Linked DNA regions of Homo sapiens: region 2 is linked to region 1. Evidence: fine-mapped expression QTL. A gene starts in region 1. The other region holds a variant in brackets. All regions are shown on one strand. Distances are from middle to middle. Region 1 holds the start of MMP2-AS1 (MMP2 antisense RNA 1). Region 2 overlaps MMP2-AS1 (MMP2 antisense RNA 1).

Evidence for each region. PIP is the estimated chance that this variant, and not a neighbour inherited with it, causes the effect. A credible set is the group of variants that fine-mapping cannot tell apart.
Region 2: its variant is the best candidate, but not a certain one, in a credible set for the expression of MMP2-AS1 in vagina (GTEx, PIP 0.82).

Annotation. Positions count from the first base shown.
Region 1 is chr16:55,453,730-55,465,406 of GRCh38, forward strand. It overlaps MMP2-AS1 (MMP2 antisense RNA 1), which reads right to left and starts at 8,568. Exons shown (of 7, transcript NR_147198.1): 1 at 8,446-8,568.
Region 2 is chr16:55,435,158-55,443,157 of GRCh38, forward strand. The region is part of intron 4 of MMP2-AS1 (MMP2 antisense RNA 1); the gene reads right to left. Among named protein-coding and RNA genes, the nearest start is that of MMP2-AS1, 23 kb to the right of the region's middle. The variant G/A (reference allele first, on the strand shown) is at 3,284.

The sequences.
Region 1 (11,677 bases):
AGTGAGCTATGATGGCGCCACTGCACTCCAGCCTAGGTGGCAGATGAGATGTCTCTAAAAATAATAGAAAACTAAAAATTTTAAAAGTCAATGTCCTTAGACCTGTCTTGGCCTCTCAGTTGTGTGTGACCTTGAGCGAATGCCTTTCCATCTTTAGGCTTCTCCTTTTCCATAGCACAAACCAGAGAAACATTTATGAGACTTTAAGTTGGCACAGTGGTGATTTCTGCTCAGTCCTTGATCTCATCTCAGGCCCAAGGCCAATGCTGATCTTTGTGCTGACATCACCTCTGTTTAGAGAGCTTGTCTTAATAGGCTTCTCCTGCTTGAATCTGCCCATGACTTCCTCCTTGTGCCCTGCCTGGACCATAGCCACAAGAAATGCTTCCATAATTGCTGAGATTGCAGCATTTCGAGTCTTTAACAATGGAGAGCCTAGGAAAGTGGCATCCATCACCACCTCAGAGAGTAGTGACTGCCTGGGCTACAGCCAGAGAGCTATTGCCAAGTGAGGGACTTCCTCCTCTGTCCCCTGGCAGTCCTAACCCTGTCCTTATGCATGGTGGGGGCACGTACTTTTCTTTCTTTCTTTTTTTTTTTTTTTTGAGACAGAGTCTCGCTCTGTCGCCCAGGCTGGAGTGCAGTGGTGCGATCTCGGCTCACAGCAAGCTCTGCCTCCCGGATTCACGCCATTCTCCTGCCTCAGCCTCCCAAGTAGCTGGGACTACAGGGGCCCGCCACAATGCCTGGCTAATTTTTTGTATTTTTTTAGTAGAGACAAGGTTTCACCATGTTAGCCAGGATGGTCTTGATCTCCTGAACTTGTGATCCGCCCGCCTTGGCCCCCCAAAGTGCTGGGATTACAGGGGAGGCACGTACTTTTAATAACGCGGGGAAGGCAGGCCCTGCCTCACAGGTGGTGGCCCTTCTTGCTGTTGATGTGAGGTCCCTGGGAAGATGCCAGCCATAATCATCCACCACCTGATGCCACAGACAGCTTGTGAGGGCAGTGCCCCTTGACTCCCACTTCTGCATCCCTGGTACCTTTCACAGAGATGGCACATAGCAGGGCAACGTTGGTAGATTAACTGACTCACTGGGGAAAGAATCGTTTCACTGATGGAGAATTCAGGAGCCAGAAAGGAGAAGAAACTTGCCTAAGGCCTGTTCCTCTCTTCTCCCTCTCACTGTCTTCATACACACCACGTGCGCGCACACACACACACATACACGCACACATCCAGATACCAGACAGGCACATACAGTCACACAGACGCTCACACAGAGATACTCAGTTCCCAGACAGACACAGTCACATGCAGACACTCACACTTACACATAAACACTCAGATACCAGACAGACACACACACTCACACTCAGACACTCACATTCACACATAAACACTCAGATACCAGACAGACACACACACTCACACAGGGACACTCACACACTCACACACTCAGAATGGAAACATACACACATGCACGGACTGCTATAGTCTAAATGTCAGTATTCCCCAAAATTCCCATGTTGAAATCTTAACTCCCAAGGTGATGGTGTTAGGAGGCAAGGCCTTTGGGTGGTGACTGGGTCATGAGGTAGGAGCTCTTGTGAATGGAATCAGTGCCCTCATAAAAGAGGCCAGAGAGAGACCTCTTGTCTCTTCAACTACATAAGGACATAGCTGGAAGTCACTGTCTGTTAACCAGAAAGGGATCCCCCACCAGACACTGAATCTGCTGGTGCCATGATCTTGGACTTCCCAGCCTCCAGAACTGTGAGCAATAAATTCTGTTATTTTAAGTAACCCAGTATATGAAATGTTGTTATGGCAGCCCAAATGGACTAAGACACAGGCACACATACACAGACAGACATACACAGACAGACACATAGACACACCCCTAGAGATACATGCTTACACACTCAGACACACATATGTACAGACCACATACACATAGATACATGTATACATAAACACATGCACACAAACGTGTATATACACAGGCACATAAAGACACACATATAGACACACACTGTCACACACACATACACATATAGACCTTCTCTAATCTTTTCCCTGCCTTTTGCTCCTGGAAGCCACTCCTGTATCAACAGCAATTCACCCAGTCCTCTTGCTCAAACTCATTGTCCCAAGTGCAGAGGTGCCCTCTCTCTTACACCTCTGTCAAAGTTACACACGTTGTCAGGTTCATGCTAAATATTTGACTTCTCATTCAAGTTGCCCCTCTCAGGAAAACCTTACCCTTGAAACAGAGGTCTTCCTCCTGGGCCTTAGGAAAAAGAATCAACCTGGAAGGACATTTCCACTGGTGGGGAGAGATTTCCTCATCATTCTTCAAATCCAGTCTTCAGGAAGCATTTAATTCTCTTGAGACATGAGTAGGGAACACACCAATTCATGGCTTTGGCCAGCCTTGACCTTGAGCTGGATAAAACATTTTTGTCCAGAGTTGTAAAAATGCAATGTAGCTTTTTTGATGAAAAGCTTAAGATGGGCCAGGCACGGTGGCTCACGCCTGTTATCCCAGCACTTTGGGAGGCCGAGGTGGGTGGATCACCTGAGGTCAGGGGTTCAAACCAGCCTGGACAACATTGTGAAACCCTGTCTCTACCAAAAATTAGCCAGGCATGGTGGCGCCCGCCTGTAATCCAGCTACTTGGGAGGCTGAGTCAGGAGAATCACTTGAACCCAGGAGGCAGAGGTTGCAGTGAGCCAAGATCGCACCACTGCACTCCAGCCTGGATGACAGTACTAGACTCTGCCTCAAAAAAAAAAAAAAAAAACAAAAAAAAACGCTGAAGATGGTGCTGTTAGACCATGAATGCCCACTTTCTCTGTGCCTATTTCTCAGGGTTTTCATTTTTCCTTATCTGCTTATCTTTTCCTTTGTGTCTTAGCTCATGAATCCGTATATGTCTCCTGCACACGGTTGCTGGTTTGGAGCCTTTTGGGGTCTGTTTTCTGATCATCCATCCAGCAAGAGACCTTTACTCAACTGCTGTTCAAAATTTATGACACTGTGTCATCTCCAGCAGACAATTTGGCCATAATTTAACATTTGTGTCCTTTCAAATAACTCAAATGCTTTTTTTTCATTGTCCTAGATGCCCTATTTGGGAGGCAGGGATGGGAAAGACATGCCTGGGTTTGCTTTGGCTTTGTTTGAGCCAGTTGCTGAGAAGTAGTATATATTTTGTTCAGCTCATCTGTCTTTCCAGCTTTTGATCAATAGCAGAGTATGTGTTTTTTATCCAAAAACTAACCAAATGTATTCAACAGATTATACATTAATTTTACCATCATGACATCGTATGAACAGATAATCCACAAAAAAGCTCCATATTTCCTAAAAGTGAATTTAATTATAAGTAGTAATGTGTGCTGGAGAATTATAATTATGAAAAGTCATGTTCTGTAAGTCTGAAATGACAGATTATATTTCAAAGGCTTATTGCAGAGGAATTAAAGGACCCAATTTATTAGTTGTAAATGTATGATTATTGCAGCTTTGCTTTACACACACACACACATGCAATCACAGTATATTCTAGCTGGATTTAATACTTATAATCCTTTCGACAAGAACTGTATTTTGCACCAAAAGCTGCCACTCCATTAATTTGTTTGTGAGACAGAGACAGGCAACTAATCTTTGCCTTTTGATTCCTGAATAGCAATAATTTCAAGTACTTTGTGGGCATGTTTTGTGCCCCTTACTCCCATCCCCACAAAGTGATTAAGAAGTTGACATGGATTGAAGAACAGAAATATTATTGCCCAAAAAGAAACAGAGAGGGTCTCATGAAGGCTGGGAGGTGCTGAGGCTGCAAAGGACTTGGGCCTGGGCTATTTGTTCATACAACGAATATTTATTGAACGTCTGCTATGTTCTAGGCACCATACTAAGTATATTCTACCTGCTACCTCAATTGAGCCTCTCAGAACAACACTCGAAGGTAGATATATTGTAAACTTATTTCACAGATGGGGAAACTGAGGCTCAAAGAAATCATCAACTAACCTGCCCAGGGTAACCGAGTTCAAGAGTGGTGGAGGCAAGACGTGAATGCAGGTGTGTTGGTGAAAACACACACTTCAGGGCAGTCTGGCACATCTACAGCCGCATCAGGTGGAGTAAGAGGGCTGTGTTTATAACACTCTCAAAGACAGAGCTGGGGAAGGAGGAGTCAATTGTGCTGGGTCAAGATGTGAAGGATGGCATCAAGGGAAGCCCAAAAGGATAGAGTGAGACATTGTAGACACAACATTGAGCCACACCCTGAAGGAGAAGAAAGTTTCTCCAGGCACAGAAAGAGTATTCCTGGCAGAAGGAACAGGTTGCAAAGTAGACAGGTTCAGAAGAACATAAAGAAAAAGGGCCTTGTGTTTGCAAAGGTGTGACAAGGACTAAGGGTGTAAGGGAGAGCTGAGGAGAGGGACAAAAGGCAGAGGCAGGAGGTAAGCCTGGAATAGTCCATGGCAAAAAGCCTTTACTGCCAAGCTAAGGAGTTTAGTTTTCTCCTGTAGACAATGGGGAGCCAGTTCATGAGCATGAGTTGGTTGTATTGGAGGACGAGATGGTCAACTCACTTGCCTACAGGGCCAAGTAGGTAAGAGATATGAAAGACAGACCTAGTGAGATTGGGTTCAGGCCTGTAATCCCAGTACTTTGGGAGGCCGAGGCAGGTAGATCACCTGAGGTCGGGAGTTCAAGAGCAGCCTGAGCAACATGGAGAAACCCCGCCTCTACTAAAAATATAAAATTAGCCAGTTGTGGTGGCACATGCCTATAATCTCAGCTACTCAGGGGGCTGAGGCAGGAGAATCGCTTGAACCCGGGAGGCAGAAGTTGTGGTGAGCCAAGATCGCGACATTATACTCCAGCCTAGGCAAAAAAAGTGAAACTCCATCTCAAAAAAAAAAAAAAAAAAAACAGAAACAGCACATCCTAACAGTAACCATCCTGAAAGGGTGGTTCCTATTTTGTTTCAGTTTACTGTGGATACTGGGAATTTGCTAAGAAAGGCTAGAAATACTAGTGACTTGGTAGACTGATGGCAAAAATAGCCCCAATCTTCCACGTCTTCAAACTTTTTATAAGTGACTTTGTACCCTCTCCCATTGCAAGCTAGAGTCTATTTCCCCACCCGTTGAATCTGCTGTGACTCACTGAGTGTGTCAGAAGCAAAGTTGTGTCTGTTCTGAGCCTAGGCTTCAAGTGGCCTTGCACATTTCCATCCTCTGCCTTGGAAGCCGCCTCCACCGTGAAGACAAGCCCAGGCTGCACTGCTGGGGACCAGAGCCCACACAGAGCAGAGCCACGCCATCCCATGGGCTGCATAGACCCGCCCAGCTCGGCTGACCCATCAGCTCTGCAGATGAAAGAGAGCCCAGCCTAGATCAGCTAAGCCTGGATCAGCAGAACCACCCAGCCAGCCTGTAGACTAATTTTAAAAAAATGTATGAAACCATTATGCTTTGGAGTGGTTTGTTAGGCAGCAACAGCTAACGGATATAGCAACTAATTCATGTTTTAAAAAGCAGCTCAGGCCGGGCACCGTGGCTCACACCTGCAATCCCAGCACTTTGGGAGGCCAAGGCAGATGGATCACTTGAGGCCAGGAGTTTGAGATCAGTCTGGCCAACATGGTGAACCTCTGTCTCTACTAAAACATCAAAAATTAGCTGGGTGTGGTGGCACACACCTGCAATCCCAGATACTCAAGAGTCTGAGGCAGGAGAATCACTTGAACCCGGGAAGCAGAGGTTGCAGTGAGCCGAGATTACACCACTGCACTCCAGCCTGGCAATACAGCGAGACTCAGTCTCAAAAAAAAAAAAAAAAAAAAAAAGCAGCTCTATGTGACTCCCTCCCTCCCCCTACAAAAAAATAGAGGGTTCAGAGACTCAGTCAACAGCATTTCTGGTTCAACAAGCATCAAAACTAGCTGAGTTCTAGGTCACTGGGGTGGGGCAGAGGAGAGGTCTAAGGACATTTCACACCCTGACACCAGTCTGTCCTTTTCTTGGGGGTTATTTCCAACCACAGACTCCTTTGCAGCCTCAGAATCCCCGAAAGCAGCTCTCCCAGGCCCCACCCAGCTTCCCTCCTGCAGTGCTTATGCCCAGTTCATGCACCAGTCTCCAATCCAGCCATCTCCTCTCACCCCTGGCCCTCAGCTTCATTTGCCTGGGCCTGTGACACCCAAGGTCTTGGAACCCTATTAGGTTGGTGCAAAGGTAATTGTGGTTTTACCATTGAGTAAAACCACATTTACTTTTGCACCAATGTAATAGATGCTGAAAAAACGGCCTTGTTTGGGAGCTCAGGAAAGCAGCTGGCTGAATTCAGAGAGACAGGACTGACTGGGATCCCCACAATCCTCACTCTCCTGGGGAATGGCCCCTCCGAAAAGCACCCTGCAGCCCCCGGGCTGATTTCATTGGGATATGCAGGAAGCCAACCGCTCCTGCTCACAACAACTACTCAGCACTGACTGTGTTTCAGACACCATCCTCAGCATCAGATGAGCAAAATCTAACACTCTCAGATGCCATCTGAGGTGGGCTTACTGAATATCACCCTTGGAAAGATGTGGAATTGTAAAAGAAGAAAAAAGGACCTCCCTTTGCTAGAGTGGGATCTTATTTCCGGCAGCCAAAGAGGCCAGGGCTGAAAAACGCCCAAATGGCCTCTGAAGCAAAATCTCACGATGAAACAAGCCTCAAAAAGCATTTACTAGCATTTCTGGTCATGGCTGTTACGGATGAAATGGTGCCTCACCTTCTGCACCCCCTCTGGCCCCCACACCTTCTATGTTCCTATCTCAGGGATTCTCCACAGGGACCTGGAAGGACAGCTGAGTGGACCGAGAGATCACACGGAGCCACTGTGAGGGGTCAGGGGATAGGGAGAGTGAGCTGCCCAGGGTGGCTGCAGAGAGGGGAGCTTGGGGAACAGAGACCGCAGGGAGAAAGAGCTGAGTGCAGCCTGAGCCCGTGATTTTCAAGCCCCGCCGCTGGCCTCCTAGGGTTCTTGTAATCATACTCCGACTCCCTTCTCCTTAGTTAGTCTAAGGGGGCTTCTGTTTCTTGCTCCCAACTGCTGCCTCACTAAGATAGACTCATTTTCAGATCTCTCTACGGATTGTAGCCTTTCCTGCAATTCCTGCCTGGATGGCTGCTCCTCCAGGCCTGGACTGGATGGAAGGTTCCAAGCGAGAACCTGCAGCATTTCTGCTTCTGCGGCATCATCCACCTCTGAGAACCACTCCAGAGGACAAGCTGAGGAGCCTTCCAAGAGCTCCATGTGTCTGTAAATGCCTTCAAAACCTGGTCTCAGTGCATCCTTTTTGCACCCACAGCCAGATAGCTGACCACACAACATCAGGATAGAGTGGTCACCACCCATTTTCTGTCATGGGAAAGGAAATTGCCCGGGAAAGGCCTTGCCCAGTGCAGACATGGCAGGCAATGCTGAGAGCTACAAAATCCTTCTAGAAGCTGTTGTCTTTCAGTTATTAAGACTATAAGGGCTGGGCATGGTGGCTCACACCTGTAATCCCAGCACTTTGGGAGGCTGAGGTGGGTGGATCACAAGGTCAGGAGTTTGAGACCAGCCTGGCCAACATGGCAAAACCCTGTCTCTGCTAAAAATACAAAAAAAAAAAAAATGCGCATGCCTGTAATCCCAGTTACTTGGGAGACTGAGGCAGGAGAATCGCTTGAACCTGGGAGGTGGAGGTTGCAGTGAGCCGAGATCACGCCACTGCACTCCAGACTGGATGACAAAGCAAGACTCCATCACGGAAAAAAAAAAAAAAAAAAAGAAGGCAGGCTGCCTAGCTTAGCTTTGCCATGACTAATCTACTTACCAGCTAAGCAACATTTGTGCAAGCTATTTCACCTCTGTGTGCCTCAGTTTCTTCATCTATAAAATAGAGATAATCATTTTACACCCCTCAATAAATGTCTTTTGAATCAATTAATGAATACTTGTAAAACACCTGGCATATTGTAAGCCCTTGTTAAATGTAAACTTTAAATGTTAAATGGTTTCTTTCTTTCTTTCTTTCTTTCTTTCTTTCTTTCTTTCTTTCTTTCTTTCTTTTCCTGTTTCTGTTCTCTCTCTCTCTCTTTCCCTCTTTCTCTCTTTCTCTCTTGGAAGGTCTCACTCTGTTGCCCAGGCTGGAGAGCAGTAGTGCAATCATGGCTCACTGCCTACAACCCCACCGTAAGTCCCTCTGGGATTCCATGATAGAGGTACTTATTCCAATTAGGGTCAAGCTGGAGGAAGAGGCGGCTGTGGCCTAGCTGTCAATTCCTCAGGGCTGGTCATTGGGGAGGAAGGGCAGGAACCAGCTGAGTTCACTGAGAGTTGGAACAGGAGACGCAGAAAGGTACAGATTTGGAAACTGACCTGGGTATCACAGTTAGGGCTCCAGGGCACTCCAGCCTGCGGTGGGAGTTTGTAGGTGTCTAAGCTGTGGCTGGGAGGGCAGTGGAAGAAAGTCAAGCTGTGCCAATTTTCCTATTTGAAGAGAAAGGGAGCAGGGGAACCAGAGTTCTAGGTGACACCATCGGGAAGACAAGCTGTGTCCTCAGCCCGGCCTGGGGGGAGGACTGGGTTGCAACTTACAGGAAAGAGGATTGACTGGATTCTTAGAAAAACAAGAGCCAAGGCTTGTTGCTGTGCAGAGGGATTGGGGTCACCAGCTGGCTGTTGTTACCGTGACTGATTCCTGATGCTTCGGAATTCAAGGGCAGGAGGCACTTGGGGCACTGGCTGAACCTTGGCTCCCTGACCCCTCCTCAGTCCCCTTCCTGGGCTCCACAACATATAAGATGAACGTTCTGATTGTCTATTTCTCCTCCCTTCTCGTTTTACTCTTCATTTGGTGGAGTGTATGGTAGGGATAAAATCTTAGAGATGTTTATCTGAGCCATAGAGAGACCTTATTGGGGGTGCATGGGAAATACACAAGTAATCCCAAGCTCACCTTGCCTGGGTGCCTGCGGAGGGCAATTGTGCATTAGCGGTAGAGTGTGGTGGGGACCTGGGCCTGGGTGGGCAGGGGAGAGCTTCTGGACAGGGGCTGGTGGATTAAGGTCATGCCCATAGGTGGGAAGCCACCCACACAGAATCACAGCATCTCAGAAGGGCAGTGCCAGAAAAATCCCCAGGGACCTCATTTTCCTTGGAACACAACCCAATTCCTTGGCTTGGCCAACCAGGCCTAGCGCATCTGGGCCCAACTTCATCTGCCTTCATTCCTCCACTGCATCAGTAGGGTCATTTGGGTGTAGGCCACAGAAGTAAACTCTGGCAACATAAGCGAAGGGGGATTTGTTAGAATAGGATAAGGGAGCCAGGCAACTGGAGCAGACATCAAGGTGGGAACACCAGGCCTCAGGGTCCCGCAGTTGCTGTGCCTGGGCTGCCATTGTTCCATCTGTATCTATGTCACGCGAGGTCATATGAGTGGGCCGGGCACGGTGGCTCACGTCTGTCATCCCAGCACTTTCAGGTGGATCACCTGAGGTCAGGAGTTCGAGACCAGCCTGGCCAACATGGTGAAACCCTGTCTCTACCAAAAATATAAAAATTTGCCAAGCCTGGTGGTGGGCATCTGTAATCCCAGCTACTCAGGAGGCTGAGGCAAGCTAATTGCTTCAACCCAGGAGGCAGAGGTTGCAGTGAGTCGAGGTCATGCCATTGCACTCCAGCCTGGGTGACAAGAGTGAAACTCTGTCTCAAAAAAAAAAAAAAAAAAAAAAAACCATATGAGTGTCCCATTGGCTCAGCCTAGATTACAGCCCCACCCTGGCAGGGTAGTAGGAGGAAGGCTTAGAACTGTCTTGGCTTCTGAAGAGGGCAGGACAGTAACCCAATCCACCTTCCCAGAAACACTGTCCTCAGTGGGGAGGAGGGACAACTCCCAAGGAGATGGGGACACATGCTCGCCAACCAAACCCACAAAAGCTCATTGTGCCTGTCGCTCTGCTCCAGCCACAGTGGCCTTCTTCTGTTCTTCAAATACAAAAAAGCTTGTTCCCACCCCAGGGCCTTTGCACTTGCCATCTGCTCTACCTGGAACACTCTTCCCCTTGTTCTGCATGTGACTGCTTCATTTTCCTCCTTCAGGACTCACACCTAACAAGGGCCTCCAAGAGGCCCTCCCTGACGACCCATTCTCAAGTTGCCCTCATCAGATAATCTTGACCTCATCCCTCCCAGGTCTCCTAGCCATCTAAAATTACCTTGTGTATGAGTCTGTTTGCTCTGTATTGCCTGTCTCCCCACTGGAATGCAAACGCCACAAGAGCAATGACTGCGGTTAATTGCTGCTATATATCCAGCACTCAGCACAGGGCTTAATAAGCATTTACCAGGCAAATAAACATATAGAGACAGAGAGCCCCAGAGGGACGGTGCTTTGGCCGAGGATGCCCAGAGAAAATACTGATGTCATTGAGGGTGCAGAAGCCAAATCTTGCTTGCTCCGGGGGCACTGGATGGCACCAGCCTAAGAGTGTGGGCACCAGAGCAGATTGCCTGGGTCAACACTCACTCTCTGTGTAACCTTGAGTGAGTTTCTTAACTTCTCTGTGCCTTGGTATCCTCATGCATAAAGAGATGACCATAATAATAATGCATTCTCAGGGGCTGTGGCAAGGATCACATGAACTAATACATGTAAAGTACTTAGAACAGGGCCTAACAATATTGTAACACTGTCAACAAGTGCAAGCTATTATGATTGGAAGACTTCCATGTCCTTATTTCTGATTGACAGGTCACTGCCCAGCCCCACCCTCGACCCAACCAGGATGAAGAATGGGCAAGCCAGATAGCTACAGTAATCGACAGACAGACAAACAAGAGCATCGTATGACCCAGGGGCCAACAAGTCCCACCCCAGTGACACCATCTCACTTTTGCAGAGCTCTTGCTCGCAAAGTGCAGCTAGGAGAACCCAGGCCTCCTGATGACAAATGCTCCTTCTTTCTGCCCCCCACGTGCCAAGAGCGAGGAGGGAAGATAGCTGCTGGCTCACTGTGTGGTCGTGGGTGAGTACATGTTACTCTCTGGGTCCCCATTTCCTCAACTTTAAATTGCAAACAAGAACCTCAGCCTGTCCCGTCTCCCTCTTAAGAGGATAAGTAGTGCCAATAAATAGTAAATGAGCTTTCTGAGACGTAAAGTGGATGCTGATTTTATTACCAAACAGGTGAGGAGCAGGTGCAAATAATTCAGCAGAAGTATTTGTACGGTCATGATTCTCAAAATTTTCCAGAGTTAAGAATCGCACGGGAATCTTGTTTAAAATATAAATTCTGTGGATGCATTCCCCCAAATTCTGATTATGTAGCTCTAAGATGGAGTCCCAGAATTTTTTAAAAAACCTCATCCTCAGGCGATGCTGAGGCTGAAGCTAATGGACCGTGATTGTGCATTAAAGCCACTAGATGGTGCCATGAGCCCAGAGAATGGGCTGATCTAGGCCGCTCTGAGCCCTGAGGCTGCTTCTCCAAAAGTGGCCACCAGATGGCGCAGCCTATCTGCAGAAGGAAGCGCGCCTTAGAAATGTGGGATCGGGGCTGGAGTCACCCCGCCTTAGCGAACCTGTGGTCTGAGAGAACAGATCCTT
Region 2 (8,000 bases), 20 kb before region 1:
TATTTCTCTGTGCATTCCCTGGTTATCACCCCTGGAGGTGAAAGCAGTGCCTCTATTATTATTAATGTTTTAATTTCAAGACAAGAAGAGTTCTTAGACATCAGCTAGCCTTGTCTCCCTGCCACAATTTTGCAGTTCAGGAAACCGAGGCCCAGGGAGGGGACGAGCTTGTTTGGGGACACAGAACAAGTTGGAACTTCCATCAGCACGTTGGGAGTATTTACGGATCATACACACCCACACAAGTCTGGGTTTGTGTTTTCCCTGGTCCTCAAGAAAAAGCCCACCGGGTTGCCAGATGTGCCGAGCTCAAAGGAGTCCAAGGAAGTGGTTTAACAGCGATGAGAAGCAGGCCCAGTCAGGGGTATAATCTGGCCTTCCCATCAGCCTCGCCTTTCTGCCTACAGGAGATAAGAGGCTGGTGTGGAGGAAACTGATATACAGCCACACGCCACAGAAATCATGTCCTTCTGCAGGCTTGGGCCACCTCCTCTCCCAGTCTTAGGCTTATGTGAAGCCTCAGAACCCTGGAGCCCATGTGTGAATGAGAAGCATCTACCTTGGCTGAGTCCTGTCCTTTCCCCTTTTCCTTCCATTTCTCATGGTCCCCTCTTTTCCCAAGGCTTCTGTTGAAAGAAAGTGCTTGAAATGTGCATTTCTGCTTTGTGTGCCAGCTCTTGCATTTCTTTACAGAAACTGCAGAAGAGAGAGCAATGCTTACCTCAAAGGCGTGAGGTTCCAATGGTGGAACTACCATTAGAGCCTGTTTGGCCTTGAGGGACCTCCCGGTCAATGTCAGATGATAGCTCTTGAGGGACCCCTTTCTCCAGCTCCTGGGAAGCTTTCCCTGAAGCTCAAGGGGACTCTGTCTCTCCGGGCTCTCTTGCCTCCCTCATCCCATTTATTGTCATGTCAGAGCAGACCTTGGCTACAAATTCCCTATTTTCACTTTTAAAACTACGTCAATACATATGTGTGTCTGTGAGTTTGTATGATGGGGGTGAGGGAAGGGGAGAAGAGGGGATGAGAGAAGGGAAGAGGGGAAGGGAGGGGAGGAGAAGAGAGGGGAGGTGAGGAGAGGAAAGAAGAGGAGCGGAGAGGAGGGGAGGGGGACAGACATGGGCCAGAGGAGAGAGGAGGGAGGGGAGAGGGAGAGTGAATCACCTGCTATGTGTTCAAATCCTCCCAACAATCAACCATCCTGTGAAGCAGGTCTTCTTGCCCCATTTTCCAAATGAGGACCCTGAGGCTCCCCTTGTCCTCTCCACCACTTGCTTTCACTTCCTTCCTCTCCTGTGCACTCCTCCTTTCCTACCTGAACATTATCTTCATTCCCAAATTTGGAGTTGGTCCTGTGTTCCCCTGAACATTATCTTCATTCCCAAATTTGGAGTTGGTCCTGTGTTCCTGGGGGCACGTTGCCGGTGCATAGGTGTGGGGCTGCAAGCCTGCAGTCCGTCTCACCATGGGGCTCCATGCAGTGGAGTTTATTCCTGGATGGACATCTGGACCTGCAAGATTTATGGGGACCCACAAGATGCTGCCAAAGGCTCTTTTTATGGGTAGTTGCAACACAGAACAGAATATCACTGTGGTCAGGCACCCTGGAGACAGAGAGAGCAGGGGTGCCTGACTGGCTGTGCATCCAACAAATGGGGCAGTACTAACTAGTCCTAGTGCTAGTACTTACCTCATAGGATTATTGCGAGGATGAGCTAAGATAATGGGGTGTTTCCAGAGGTGCAGAGACCACGGGTGGTATTGAAAATGATTTGAAATAATGCACAGACAAGGCATTAAATAGCACTGACTCAAACAGTAAGTGTATTAGGTCCTTTTTAGCTCTCTTTGAATTCTTCTAATTACGTCAAGAAAGTCTCCAGTTGATGCTATTGTGTCTTTAATGCCTAACAAGTACTAATTATTTTTGTTGTTTTGTTCTCTGTGTTTTAACAAAGGGAGTGAAGACTTCAGGCTCAGAGTCCCACTGCAGGCAACAGTGTCTAGGTAGAACTTAATACATATTTTCTTTTTTATTGGAATAATTTTTATGGTTAGTGGTTTTCTATTCACAGAAATAGTATAAAATTTTCTGTGTGAGTAAATGGATTTAGGTTTTAAAAGCAGATCCATTTAAAGGGGAGAACAGCATTAAGTAGATCATAGTATCAATAACATTCAAATATGTCCAAAATTATAAAAGGAGCCCACAGTGATGAAATTTTCAGAATCATTGAGATAATCCACGTCAAGAGCACAGTGGTGGTTATTACTCTTCTGGTGTTGACCCAAGAGTTTCCACATCTAAAACAGGTGGGACAAACTAGGTAGTTTGGGCCCTTCCAACTCTGAGGATCCAAAGTCCTTACTTATTTAGTACCTTGTTTTCCTCTGTCAGGTTCAAAGACAGATTCTCCAATGAGTGATCTTCATCAAATGAAGCTTGGGCTACTCCCAAGGAATCCTGCCACTCTGGAAGATGTTTGATGCAAAATATCTCTGGGGTCAGACAAGTCGACTTATGCTTTCTGAGTCTCAGTTCTTCATCTGCAAAATGCTGTGCCTGATAGCACTAACCTCCGGGTTCTGTAGATTTCATAAGATTATGTAATGTAGCACAAAATGTGAAAAAGTGACCACGAGATATGTATCAATGCCCAGACAAGGCATTGAGTAATACTGACTCACACAGCAAGTTTCCCTATTGCATCAATGAGAAAGTCTCAGTCTGGTAATAATATTGCCTAAGTGCTTTTCTTACACCTGCCAAATAACCCTTTAATTAAGTAGAGGGAAAGGCCTCAAGGCCTTAGGCTTTTGGCAGGCAATAAGATCCAACTGGGATATTAGAGATAGGCTTAGAGGAATATGAAGACTATATCCCCACATTAGCCCTGGGAACAGAACAGGAGCCAAGGGACAGTGGTATTTGAGCTGACCCCTGAAGAGACAGAAAGATTCCTCCAGGCAAAACATACTGGAAAGATGTACAAGGCATCAGGAAAAGCAATCCCTTAAAATCAGGAGGCCTTAGCCAGGTTTGTGCTACAGACCCTCCAGGGGAGGTCTATGGACCTCCTTATGGAATAATGTGGGTTTTAAAATGTGAGATGAAAATATTGGCATTGTTCTTGTGGATTTTTAAATAGTGATAAAATATACATGACATAAAATGTATTATTTTAACTATTTTTAAGTGTACAAGTCAGTGACATTAAGTATTCACATTATTGTATAGCCACCACCATATCCATCTACAGAACTGTATCTTCCCAACCTGGAA[G/A]TCTACACCCATTAACAATACCACTCATTATTTCCTCCTTTCCCATCTTGGGGCAATCATCACTCTACTTCCTGTGAATGAACTTGACTGCTCTACATATCCCATGTGAGTGGAATCATATAGTATTTGTCCTTTTTTAATTATCCTATTTATCCCAAGTCAGGCTTACTTCACTTAGCATAGTCTTCAAGGCTCATTCCAGAATAATGTCATTGCATGCATAAAATTTACAAAACAGCATTACAAAGAAAAGTTATATTAAATAACAGTTATCTAAATAATTATTTAAATTAATATAGTAATATGTGGGCTTTTATTAACCAAGATATAATAAGATATAGAGGTGGGTCTACTCATCACTATAATTTCCAGAGAGTAGTGAGTCTGTTTCAAGATACTCTGTAGCAACTATAATGTGATATGAAAATATCTGTGATATCTATTAATGACGAAGTCACAAAAGTCCCATGTAGTGCTGATACAATTTTAGTTGTTGCCTACATTCAGAATTGAAGGAAATGCTAACTGTCAGTTAGAAGTTAGCAAAAATTTAAAAATACATTTTTTTTTCCCATTCAAGCTAAGAATTCCATGGAATTCTTAGAAGTCTTCCATTTCATGGAACCCAGGTTAAGAATCTTCACCCCATGAAAGGAATATTTTTATTCTTCATAAGTTTATTTCATTCTTGGTCCAGAGGTGAGGCAAAGATCAGCTCCTCTCAGCTTCTACTTGGCCCCAGAAACCAACTCTTTGGCATAGACAGTAAGGCTGGGTTTTGGACACGAAACATTTTTCATTAACCCCCACCCACCCCGCCCAGGTATTATGTTTGAAAAGCAGTCTGTGACAGGGAGTGGTTAAAACAGAAGACAAGTTTGTTTCACTCCAAAATCTCTTCCATTTGGTCTCATGGTTCATTAGTATTTGTTGTGCAACACCAAAAAAAAAAAAAAATGCACTCAGATGTAAATGCAGGGACGGCCCAAAACACAGGAGACACTCCACGTGTCTAGACAGCAATGTTCTAACCAACAGAGGAGACACACTGCGCTGTTCATAGTAGTTGCTTAATTTTTCTCATCTGCAAACAGGCTATGGATTGCCAACCTTTAATTAAGAAACAGTTTTCTTTTCAAAAAGAATGTGTTCTAATAAATACCAGCTGAGCTGGGATGGAGGCGCTATAGAAATTACAACTGCAGCTGAAAAACCATGAGACTTGCAGCAGGCTAACCATGAAGACCTTCAGGAAAGGAATAGTTTCCATGTGCTTTGGAGATGAGGACATGCCTCGTGGGCTATGCTCCTTGGCTTCAAAGCCAAGCCACAGCGCCGGTGCTGTGGGTTCTGCCTTCTTGGGCAGAGAGAGGACAGAAAGAGGCAGAAAGACAGTGAGGCAGGGTATTGGCTTAAATGACCTCTGCCTTGACATTCTATGACTTTAAAATCAAAGAGGTACTCAGGGTAAGGTTAGAAGTGTTCTTACTACAGCTGATATCATTGACTTTGCAAAAGGGAGTTCCTAGCAAAGAAAATGTTTCTTCAGATTGAAGTGTCTTGGTATTTGAAATGTCTTAGCATCCCTGTGACCCTCCCTCCACACGTAGTGTTGCCAGATAAAATGCAAGATGTCCAGTTAAATTTGAACATCAGATTAAAAATGAATAATTTTCAGTGTACATATATCCCGTGCAATAAGCTAAAAATATACAAAAGCATTATTTGTTGTTTATCTGAAATTCAAACTTAACTGTGTGTCCTGTATTTTTACTTACTAAATCGGCCAACTCTACTCCCACTCAAACCAGATCTTTCCTCCGATCCACTTTCCTCCAGTTCTTTGTAGAGAAATGCCAGGCCAGCCTGGCACAGACTGAGGTCAACTTAGAGACATGTGTACAGTCAGCATAATGGTTAAGAACACCAACTTTGGAGTCTCAAAGACTTAAAGTAGCCTTCAACTCAAGCCTGTCGCTTTTTGATGGGTTTATCTTGAGAAGCTTTCATGACCTCCCAGGGCCTCAGCTTTGTCCTTTGCAGAATGGGGAGATTGAAAGTCACGGCTGATGTTCAGCCATATCCAATAGTACAAAATCCATACCAGCAGTTTAAAAATTAGAGCATTTCCCAGGCCAGTTGTCAAATAGCTTCCCAATCTCCCCTTCATTGTGCCAGGCACCCTGGCTCCTCCCCACCTCTTTCCTCATCTAGCAACAAATACCTGGCACAGTCAGGGGTCTCCAGGACCCTGTTCTAGTGTTTAACTCAGTGTTCTTTCTGATTGGCAAGTATCTGTGGCTTATTGATAGTTAAATAAATTGACAACCACTCCTGTTAGGAATACCCACCTCAAAGGTTGTTGTAAGGGGTAGGTGAAATGATGTGAAAGAACTGTGATATAGGGTTTGGCCCAGAGATCTCTCTCTCACACACACACACACACAGAATGAATGAATGAATGAATGAATCCCTGTGCTACTTATAAGGAAGAGCCTTGCCTTTTTTTGCACATGGCAAACCATTCTCTCTCTCTCTCTCTCTCTCTTTAATAAACCTTAAAGATCATTCTACTTCTAGTTTAATTTCTTCCTCTTTACATGGAGGAAAACTGAGATTAGGCATAATTTACTGACTTATCTAAACAAGTCCACTTTTATGCATTGTAGGTTTGAGGGATCGTTGGAAAGATCTTTTGCTCAAAAACATTCCTTTCATCCAACTGCCACAAAGCCTGAAATTTCACCATTAGCATTTTAGCCATCTTTAAAAATTGCACTAACACTTATCAAGATATTTCTCAAAGCCCACTCTCTTTAAGCTAGAAATGACCCAGGGTCATCCTGAGAACCTCAAGCGCTGGGCTGGAGGGTGGTAAAAAAGAGATTCTGAAAGAAGTTGAAAGGAGACCTGGGACGTGCCAAAGACACATGCGTCCAACTTTAAAACTGTGTGACTGGCTGGCTATGCATTAGATTGTCCCACTGGGGCAGTTGTGCATTTGTGCTGTTGCATAATACAGAAGGACAAAAAGCATAAATACTAACTGATCACTTCATTCAAAAGAACTTCCCAAAAGGAAGCCAGACCCCTTTGATGCTGCCTTATGCTTAGGCAAAGCTAAAAGTCGTTTTTATACTGTTGGTCAAGGGTTTTTCAACTGGATGCCTGGAAATGTTTTTCACAGATCTACAAAGCATGGATCATACAACAAAGCCTCAAAATATACAGGGGCAAAAATCTAGCTGGGATTGTATCCATTCATATATACAAGTTGGTTCCACCACTGGGTTAATGCTAACTGCTGGAGTCCAGCATCTCTTGTATTAGATATATCTTTATCCGCTGACAGTTGAATTCGATCCACCTGCACATTATTTTGAGGACAGGTGTTGAGAGCTAACCAGTTGCTGGTATAGGCTAGTCTGTTTCCCCCAGAACACAATATTGTCCTGTGCTGTGTAATGGTGTTTCGGTCAATGACAGGCTGCATATATGACAGTGGTCCCATAAGATTATAACGGAGATGAAAAATTCATATCACCTAGTGACACGGTAGCCATTGTAATACTGTAGTGCAATTACTTTATTTTTTATAAATTTAGCATGGCCTAAGTCTACAGTGTTTATAAAGTCTCTAGTGGTATACAGTAATGTCCTGGGCCTTCACCTTCACTCACCACTCACTCACTGACTCACACAGAACAAATTCCAGTGCTGCAAGCTCCATTCACAGTAAGTGCCCTATACAGGTGTACCATTCTCTACTTTTTATACCATAATTTTACTGGACCTTTTCTATATTTACATATGTAAATGCTTACCACGGTGTTACAATTACCTACAGTATTCAGTGTGATACATGCTATACCGGTTTGTAGCCTAGGAGCAAAAGGCTATTCCATATAGCTTATACCATCTAGGTGTGTGTAAGTACACTGTATGAGGTTGGCACAATGATGAAATAGCCTCTCAGAACACATCCCCATCCGTCACCAACACATGACTGTAAAATTCAACATCCAATCATTTGACTGATTTAGTTTAGAAGATCAGAATCTAAAGAAATTTTTTTTAAACTTCTGGAAAAACAGGGGTTAAAATTCTGGCACTTTTCTTCAAACATCAATATTTGTGACTTATTAATTACCAATGGATGATCACCAAACGAGGAAGGATCTTCCCATCAGAGTCTAATTAGTTTCATTGTCTTTTTTTTTTTCTGGATTCCATTGTATTTCACTCTACCCTTCGGCTGCCTGTTTTAATTAATGTTGCACTACATTCAAAGGTTTTGCTTTTGTGCCTCTCTGTTTGATTTAAATTCCTTTTTGCAAATAAATAAATAAATAAATAACTATCAAAGCTAATGAGGCTCTGAAGATTTGAGATGTAAATATCATATGCAGATTCTTTTTTGGTCCCAGCTCAGCGGAAGACCAAAAATAACACTTGAAAGTTTGATTAAGAAATCTCAGGCTCCCCATCTCATGCCTCCCTCCAGACAATCTTTCTGCTGGCATTTTCAGTTATTTGACAAAAAAAAAAAATCAAGCCCCCCAAACCCAAAACCTCAAGAGCAAGCTCCTTTCAAGACTGGCTCAGATGGGCATGGTATTGTGCTGAGCTGCTATTTAAGATCCAGCCCGGACTGACTGATTCCTGTCTGTCCTGAGAGATCTGTGCATGTCAATGCATCCACTCACCACACACACAC